Linked DNA regions of Homo sapiens. The protein of the gene in region 1 interacts with the protein of each later gene in a biochemical or structural test. Each region holds a gene or a part of one and is shown in the gene's direction. Other genes may lie near its edges.

Region 1 (6,093 bases):
AGTAGTTAACATAACTTTATAGAATAATTTTTTTTTCTCTTCAGACGGAGTCTCACTCTGTTGCCCAAGGTGGGGTGCAATGGCACGATCTCGGCTCACTGCAACCTCTGCCTCACCGATTCAAGTGATTCTCCTGCCTCAGCCTCCCGAGTAGCTGAGGCTACAGGGGTGAGCCACCGCGCCCGGCCTAGAATAATTTTCGATTGCTGGTTGAGCAGAGCAAGGCCAATATGAGTTGAGGAAAGCAGAGATGGAAAGGCTCTTTATAGTTAATGATTTCTCATTTTTGCTTTGCTTCCTTTTGCCAAAGTCGGCTTGTCATCTGAGAGTGGAGAGGATTTGTTAGATCTTATGAAGCCAGAGCTCACTTCTGATGTGAACCAAGTATTAATAATTTTGGTGGTGGTTTTCTGTACTGCATCTGAGAGAGTAATCATTGTTCTTTGAAGATGCAATAATTCTACGCTACTACGGGACTTAGGGAAATAATTTTTGAGGATAGGAAGCACAGAATAATTAAGATGACAAGTCTTCCTGCCTCAAAATCATATCACTCTGATTCGAATAAAAAATACCAAGGTTTTTCCTTCTTGAGGTTTTATACTCATGGAAGTTCTTCAACCTGAGGTCTGAAAAATAAGGCAACCCCATCCTCTCCTTAAACAGGTTAGAGCCAGTACCTTTTTATTTCTCTATGCACGGACAAAATAATTATGCAAAAAAAAAAAAGAGGCAGGTTTTGTTTTTTTTTTTGCACTACTGAAATTCACACTTAACATATAAACAATCTGCTATATGCAGACAGCACTGGTGTTTAGAGTTCAATGATCTGGATTCAAGCCTATTTAAAACCAGATAAGAGAAAGTTCCCAAACATCTATGTGTCTTGGATTCTTCATCTGTAAAATTGCGTTGTTGAGAAGATAATATGAGACTAGGCGCGCAAAACAATTTGTTAGAGCTATTATTTCTAACCCGGAATGTGTTCGCTGGCAGTAACAGTGCATTAGTTACGATTCATCGAGGGCAGCTTCTGGACTTTCTGTTTGGAAGCCCAGCTGAGGCAAAAGCAGCAGTGCGTTTAAAAATTGGAGCTCGCCACATTCTGAAATTCTTTCGGTTCGTGAAAGCAGTAACCTAGGAAACGAGACTGGCACCACCCCTTTCAGTCCTAAAGCTTGGTTTCTCCCGCTTTTCTCCATTATGTTTAGGGCATCGCTATTTTACAGTCTTTTTGTTTTTTCTTTCCACATCATTAGCACAAAAGAGAAATTCCCCTTCTACAGAAGCAAGTACAAAACCTTTCTAGTCGCTCCTTTTTGGCAGCAGCTCACCTACTATTTTTTTCTATTCCGCGGTCGCAGCCCCAGACGTCCTCAAAGACAAATATTTTCGCGAGGGCCAGTGTAGGGCAGGAACTCCCTAGGCCTTGAATCAAGGGAATCCAGTAGATAACAACAGAAAGGACTCCGACCCAGGTACCTGAGACATCTGAGACCGCCAAAATTAACACAACACCCTACGCGACAGAGAAAACTCTGGGCGGGGAGAGAGAAAGAGAGCGAGCGAGCGAGAGAGAGAGAGAGCGAGAGAGAGAGAGAGAGAGAGAGAGAGAGAGAGAGAGAGAGAGAGAAAGAGAGCGAGCGAGAGAGAGCGAGAGAGCGAGAGAGCGAGAGAGCGAGAGAGCGAGAGAGAGAGAGAGAGAGAGAGAGAGAGAGAGAGAGAGAGAGAGAGAGAGAGAGAGACGAGAGGAAGCAACGTTCTCGCGACAAGAGGGGTGTCGACGGAAACTCGGAAATGGTCCCCTAGACGACCCGGCCCCAGCTAGTGGGTGGGGCCAGGGTACATCCGCCCCTTTCCGGTTTTTTTCCCCGCCTCCCAACCGTGAGGTGTTGGGTTTGGGGGACGCTGGCAGCTGGGTTCTCCCGGTTCCCTTGGGCAGGTGCAGGGTCGGGTTCAAAGCCTCCGGAACGCGTTTTGGCCTGATTTGAGGAGGGGGGCGGGGAGGGACCTGCGGCTTGCGGCCCCGCCCCCTTCTCCGGCTCGCAGCCGACCGGTAAGCCCGCCTCCTCCCTCGGCCGGCCCTGGGGCCGTGTCCGCCGGGCAACTCCAGCCGAGGCCTGGGCTTCTGCCTGCAGGTGTCTGCGGCGAGGCCCCTAGGGTACAGCCCGATTTGGCCCCATGGTGGGTTTCGGGGCCAACCGGCGGGCTGGCCGCCTGCCCTCTCTCGTGCTGGTGGTGCTGCTGGTGGTGATCGTCGTCCTCGCCTTCAACTACTGGAGCATCTCCTCCCGCCACGTCCTGCTTCAGGAGGAGGTGGCCGAGCTGCAGGGCCAGGTCCAGCGCACCGAAGTGGCCCGCGGGCGGCTGGAAAAGCGCAATTCGGACCTCTTGCTGTTGGTGGACACGCACAAGAAACAGATCGACCAGAAGGAGGCCGACTACGGCCGCCTCAGCAGCCGGCTGCAGGCCAGAGAGGGCCTCGGGAAGAGATGCGAGGATGACAAGGTAAGGACGACCCTTTTCTCTTCAAACCCCATGGTTTCTTTTCTCCCCGGGGTCTGGGGCGGGATGTTAATCCGCTAGCTGTTGTCTTATGCCTTCCAGTATTTCAGTCCTGAAGGCTCCTTTCACCCCCAACAACCCTGTTTCTGTCAGACTTTTCCCAGTTTATCAGTGCCACGTTCTCTGGTCCCTGCCAGAAAAAAATGACTGTAAATTCTGGTTCTCAAGAGTGGACTGTGTGCAGATGCTGCCTATTCTCTAAGCTCAGCTGGTGAGTTGGCAGTAGTAATCATCTGGCCTGTGTGGCCCCCTTACCTTCAAAGACACACAAATCTGGCGACTGCCAGGTTTGGTGTGGTTATTGTCTCATTTTTATTCCGTGCACACTGATCAATATTAATTTCGTTATTTAAAGAACGAAGCCGCCTCTGACTCCTCTACTTATGGTAGTCATCATATATTTTTTAAGCTGTGTGACTTTTAAAATCTCTATAGGGTGATGTATTGAATAACTAAATAATCAGCTATGACTGCCTTTTTGTGATCAAAATGTTATGATAGATGGGCCCTCGAGCTATATGTGAGACACACTTGTGTCTTGGACATAGTTGATCCATCATTATCTACTCAATTTGAATTGTTAATGAAATCAGCCAAAAGATTAGAATCTGAAAATAAATTTTAAGCAGTGGAATGTCATGTCAGTGTCTTCATTGAAAGAAAATAGAATGAAATTTTGTATAGCTAAGTTGCTATTAGGGTTGGTGTTTTATGCAGATGGAAAACTATACAAAGTTTTAAATATAAAAAGTTTAAAATTGAACTGTAATCATACTTGCTACTAAATAATCCTTGTTTTCATTAGCTCATTGGTAACTATATTAATAGTTTATGACTTAGCAACTTCTGTAGGTATAGTAGAGTTATGAAAATTTCTGGGCAGGATAGTAGATGCCTTTCTATACACTTCTTTGGTAATCTTCACATTTTTGTGTGTAAATGCCCATTATAATTACAAGTTTTACTTTGCATATCAAAATCACTTAAGGGTAAGTCATTATGAATTAAACTGTCTGTGAGCTTCTAACTTTCCTGTTGACAGCCTCTACCTGGCTTTCTTATTTCATGAAGATTAAGGCCCTCAGCTAAGTGCTTCCCTATAACCCCCTCCTCTTCACCATAACATAGACATGCTATGATAGGGTCAAGGAATCAGTACATTTATATGTGCGCTGCATGCTTAACTCTAAAGACTGAAAAACTCTCGGGCAGAGTAGGTAGAAATCCATGAAAGTTTGGAGTATTAAAGTAAGGTCTTCCTACTTGGCATGGTTGAGCATTACAATTCACATTCTTCTCTCTGGTCTCAAAGGAAAGTCTCTTGTTGTAATTAATACTCTTGATTCCATTCTTTCATCCATTGGACTTTTTGTTGTTGTCGTTGTTGTTGTTGTTGTTGTTTTTTGAGACGGAGTTTTGTTTTTGTTGCCCAGGCAGGAGTGCAATGGCGTGATCTCAGCTCACTGCAACCTCCGCCCCCCCGGGGTTCAAGCAATTCTCCTGCTTCAGCCTCCTGAGTAGCTGGGATTACAGGCATGCACCACCACGCCTGGCTAATTTTGTATTTTTAGTAGAGAAGGGGTTTCTCAATGTTGGTCAGGCTGGTCTTGAACTACCAACCTCAGGTGATCCGCCCGCCTCAGCCTCCCAAAGTGCTGGGATTACAGGTGTGAGCCACCATGCCCAGCCTCTTTTTTTTTTTTTTTTTTTAAAGAGACAGGGTCTCATTGTGTTGCCCAGGCTGGAGTGCAGTAGCTGTTACACAGGCATGATGCACTATAGCATTGAAATCCTGAGCTCAAGTGATCCTCCTGCTTCAGCCTCTGAGTAGCTGGGACTGCAGGTGTGCACCACCTTGCCCAGCTCTACTGAACTGTCTCTTTCAGTTTGTTTCACTTTTTACCTTCAACAGTATGTGGGTGTCCCCTGTTCTCAGTAAAGGAAAAAAAATCTGTATATTCCTTTCTCCCAACCAACCCATTTGTTTTTTCACTTTCATTGCTAAAGTCAAATTATTGATGGTCTACAAATGTTCCATCTACCTATTTTTTCATAACCATCCTAATCTTAAAATGTCTGCCATCTTTCTTTCCTCCCCTTTTTTGAAACTATTCTCTTGAAGGTCACAAATGGCAGTCTTCCTAGTCAAAACCAAAGAATATTTTTATTCTTACTGTATTTGACCTCCCAGTAGTTTGATCCTGTTGATTGTCTCTAGCTATTTGGAAACTATTTTCTTTCTTGCTTCTGTTATACTGGACTCTCCAGTCTTATCTTCTTCACTATATTCTTTGCTGGATTTATTTTTTCTTTCCAGTCACCTAGTAAGGGACTCTGTTATTGAGCCTTTGCTCTCCCATAAGAGCAGTATTCCCCAAAGTAGTGTTAAACAGAATACCCTTCTTGTAATATTTCTTAGGTGGTGAGGAGAAAAAAATGAAAACCTTTTTTGGAGGGAAATGTTAGTGTATCCTCCTCTTGGAATTCATAATGCCTGCTGGAATATAAAAGCTCTGAGAAATCCATTAATAAAGAAGGCTATTCAATTTTGTTTAACTCAGTCTTGTTTAGTTTATTTGATCACAGGTTACTATTTTCATGGCCTACCTATTATGGCACAGAATAATATAGCAAAGCCCACTAGTTTGGGAAATATTGCCCTGGGTATCTTAACTACTTTTAAGTGTTTGGCTAATATTTTATGCAGCTGGCTCACAAGACTGTATCTCTTATTGAATGTCAGTTCTGTGTGTGTATATGTGTATACATACATATATATATATATATATTTTTTTTTTTTTTTAGACAGAGTCTCGCTCGGTTAAGCAGGCTGGAGTACAGTGGTGTGATCTCGGCTCACTGCAAGCTCCGCCTCCTGGGTTCACGCCATTCTCTGCTTCAGCCTCCTGAGTAGCTGGGACTACAGGCGCCCACCTCCATGCCCGGCTAATTTTTTGTATTTTTAGTAGAGATGGGGTTTCACCATGTTAGCCAAGATGGTCTCGATCTCCTGACCTCGTGATCCACCAGCCTTGGCCTCCCAAAGTGCTGAGATTACAGGCGTGAGCCACCGCACCCGGCTAGTTCTGTATATTTTTAAAAGTTTTTTCTTTTTTTAGTTTTGTAGAGATAGGGTGTTGCTATGTTGCCCAGGCTGCTTTCAAACTCCTGGCTCCAAGTGATCTTGCCTTGGGCTCACAAAGTGCTGGGATTCTAGGTGTGTGCCACAGCACTTGGTGTGCCACTTCTGTATTTTGAGCTGGCTATAACAACTTTCTTGGGCTGCTTGTGAATGTCTGTTCTTGGGGTTAATGAGGACTCTCTGAGCTGCTTAGTAGAAAGGGTAGTCTTGGTCTCTGTATTTTAAACTTAACAGTTTTTCAGGGTTTTTTTTATTGTTATTGTTGTTTGTTTGTTTTGAGACAGGGTCTTGCTCTGTCACCCAGGCTGGAGAGCAGTGGTGCGATCATAGTTTACTACAGCCTCAAACTCCTGGGCTCAAGCGATCCTCCCACCTCGGCCTCCCAA
Region 2 (3,213 bases), on another chromosome or scaffold:
ACATTTTTTGAAGCTGGTTTAATGTGAAATGTGGTTGGAGTCAAAGCCAGATTATAAAGGACTAAGGATTAAATGAATTGAGGAATGAAGATTATGCTTTTAAACATTTTAGCCATTCAAGTTTCCAAACAACTACATGTTTCATTTTGCTTTTCTCTTTCAGTTCATTATGTCCTATTTCTTTTTTCTCATAGGTGAGACCTGGAACCCCTTCAAATTACAGTACCAGCTGAGAAATGTACGAGAGCGCATCGCAAAGAACCTAGTAGAGAAAGGTATTCTAACCACTGAGAAGCAGAATTTCCTGCTATTTGACATGACTACTCATCCAGTGACCAATACAACAGAGAAACAGCGACTAGTGAAAAAACTTCAAGATAGTGTACTAGAGCGGTGGGTAAATGACCCTCAGCGTATGGACAAGCGAACACTAGCACTCCTGGTGCTAGCCCACTCCTCTGATGTGCTAGAGAATGTCTTCTCCTCTCTGACAGATGACAAGTATGATGTGGCAATGAATCGAGCCAAGGACTTAGTAGAACTGGACCCTGAAGTGGAAGGGACAAAGCCTAGTGCCACAGAAATGATCTGGGCTGTGCTGGCAGCCTTCAATAAATCTTAAAGCCGGCAGGTGGATTTCTCCTTTTCCCCTGCTGGCTGGTGACTGTCAGAGACCCCATCACTGAGTTTTGTGTGATGAGATGTTTTCATCATTTTTGTTTCCTTTTCTTGAATCAGACTTGTGATTTGGGGAGAGCAACTTCAGGGCTTCTCCATAGACCTTGACCATTATAAGCAGACCTTATTTCTCCCTACACTTCCACTCCATAGGTAAATAAACTGGGTGAAGCCACACACACCCAATGAACATTTTCTCCCATTTGGTGGTTTAGTTTCACCCAGTGTGCTTTTGGATAAGCAGAAATATCTAAATGGGATTTTGAGTTCTCCAGCTATAGAATGTGAATGAGATAAAAAGTGAACTATCTATTATATTTTTCTGAGTTTGTTTTCTATCATAAATACATGTTTTCACAGCCTTTGTCTCTCAGACTCTGCTAAATAATGTAGCTTATTGAAATAACTGTCGCTGAATAAGGAGCAATGAGAAACAAAACTAATTTTTGGAGCAGATGGTCTCTGGAATTGCATATCCTGCTAGTGATTTTCTCATCTTTCCTTTTCTAACCTAATGAGAATGTCCCAGATTCAATTACCTGGATGTCAAAGTCCTAGAGCCAGAAATATATTCTCTCATCCCTCTTAGCATTCTCTTGCTCCCTCATTCACTAGGGCAAATGTCTAAATGAAGAAAAGTCTCTCTCAACACCTCGTTCATGCAATCAGCATTAGAATTTGTAAGGAAGGAAGGGGGGTGGCATGAAAATTTCCATTCTTGGGGTATATGACTGTCCTGTTTCCCCCAGGCCACTTTTTTTTTTTTTTTCTTTTGAGACAGGGTCTTGCTCTTGCCCAGGCAGGAGTACAGTAGTGCAATCACAGCTGACTGCAGCCTTGACCTCCAGGGCTCAAGGATCCTCCTGCCTCAGTCTCCCAACTAAGTGGGACTACAGGCACGTGCCACCATACTCAGCTTTTTTTTGTTTGTTTTAGACAAGAGTCTCGCTTTGTTGCCCAGGCTGGTCTTGAATTCCTGGGCTCAAGCAATTCTTCCACCTCAGCCTCCCAAAGTGCTGAGATTACTGGCTTGAGCCACTGCACCCACCCCTCCAGACTACTTTAAATGTCTCTGCTCTGACTGAATTGAAGGAATTGTAAGTTTCAGTTGCTGAATATATCAGTATATCTGAACTCCAGATCTTTTTATTTCCTATTTTTGGCTTCCTACATAAATTAATAAAGTCTGTCTATATTTAAGGTTTCTGGGAGTAGTTTTGTCTATATTTAATCCATAGATGTGCTCCTAGTCATCAGTCTTATTTCAGTAAAACCATCTTTCTGGCCAAATCTCTAACACGTTTTTTACTTCAGTAGTGAGGGCAATGAGAAGCTTTATTAAGAAAGATCCTATTTAAAGGGCTAATTTGGTATTGAAAGCATGCTGATATAAAGTCCAGTATTTGAGGATATAAAGAGGATGTGCACTGAGCTGTGCTGATGTTCAGCATTTATTATACTTTAATGGGATAGTGCTTCTTGACCATTATAGAACAACAAACTGTCAAAGGGTTAATACAGATGACCCAGACCTGACATTAAATCCTCTTGATTAGAAATAATTAAATGAATTATTTATTCATTTCTCTCCTCTGCCAAATCTACTTAGCCCCACAAAAATGCCCCAGCTCAGTTAACATTTTTTTGTTTTTCACTTTAGGTATCTCTTAGGCAAATAGAGATATAAATTGTAATAGGAAACAGTCTCTAAATGTGAGGCTGAATACAGCTTCAGTCTGGCTCTCTAATAGGACAAAAGCCAGTCCATGTGTTGTCTCTAACTGATTTAGCTTTTTCTTTTCTTTGAACAATTCGGCATGAATTGAAACCAGGTTTTCCTGTGGAAAGTTATAGCTTGATTGGGAGATAGAAGTTGAATTGAGTTCTTTCTTGCAACTCTTAGTGTTTATTTTTATATCTCAGTAAGACGAGGATACCTTCAGTTTGAATCTGCATAATGTTCACTGCCAAACTCCTTCTCATTTAATGCTTATGGCCTTCACATTTCTGTATAATAAAGATCAATTATCAGCTCTCTGGTCTCTCTGTGCACAATTTTATAATTTAAATTGTTTTAATTGGAACTAAGGACTTTCTACACAAGGCTATTAATGCCTCCCCCTTTACACTAGCATACCAGCTTGTTTTATCCTATGTAGAAAATGAGGGATACAAAAACAATTGTAACATACATAGGCTGAGGGGCAGGACATGTCAAAAGCTGACCACATGAACACCAGCTAATACTATAAAGCCTAAATAGTGTCTCCATCTCAATCAAAATAAATTAGCCAATTATACCATTATTACCATGAAGAGAATGAATATGATCTGTTCTACTAATATCTACTTGCAAATGACACCTGAATTTAGGAGTTGAAAATCTTAAGTTCCAAATGTAGGTGACATGCCTGACTATAACAGAGTTAACATGTAAAAATGTAAGTGTGCTTATAATTGGCTTATTGTTCTCCCTTTCTTTATCTATAGCACAAGGGACAATAATACATTTGTTTATTAGGATTGTTTATACTT

What was found. Proteins that work in one complex are often made in the same cells at the same time.
Region 2: the proteins of GOLM2 (region 1) and GOLPH3L form a complex in vitro, tested with the Homo sapiens proteins (one study listed by BioGRID).

Annotation. Positions count from the first base shown.
Region 1 is NC_000015.10:44,286,849-44,292,941, forward strand, and holds the start of GOLM2 (protein GOLM2), read left to right. Parts: upstream 1-1,870; 5' UTR 1,871-2,181; coding exon 2,182-2,508; intron 2,509-6,093.
Region 2 is NC_000001.11:150,645,730-150,648,942, reverse strand, and holds the end of GOLPH3L (Golgi phosphoprotein 3-like), read left to right. Parts: intron 1-194; coding exon 195-622; 3' UTR 623-2,713; downstream 2,714-3,213. UniProt on the Homo sapiens protein: Phosphatidylinositol-4-phosphate-binding protein that may antagonize the action of GOLPH3 which is required for the process of vesicle budding at the Golgi and anterograde transport to the plasma membrane.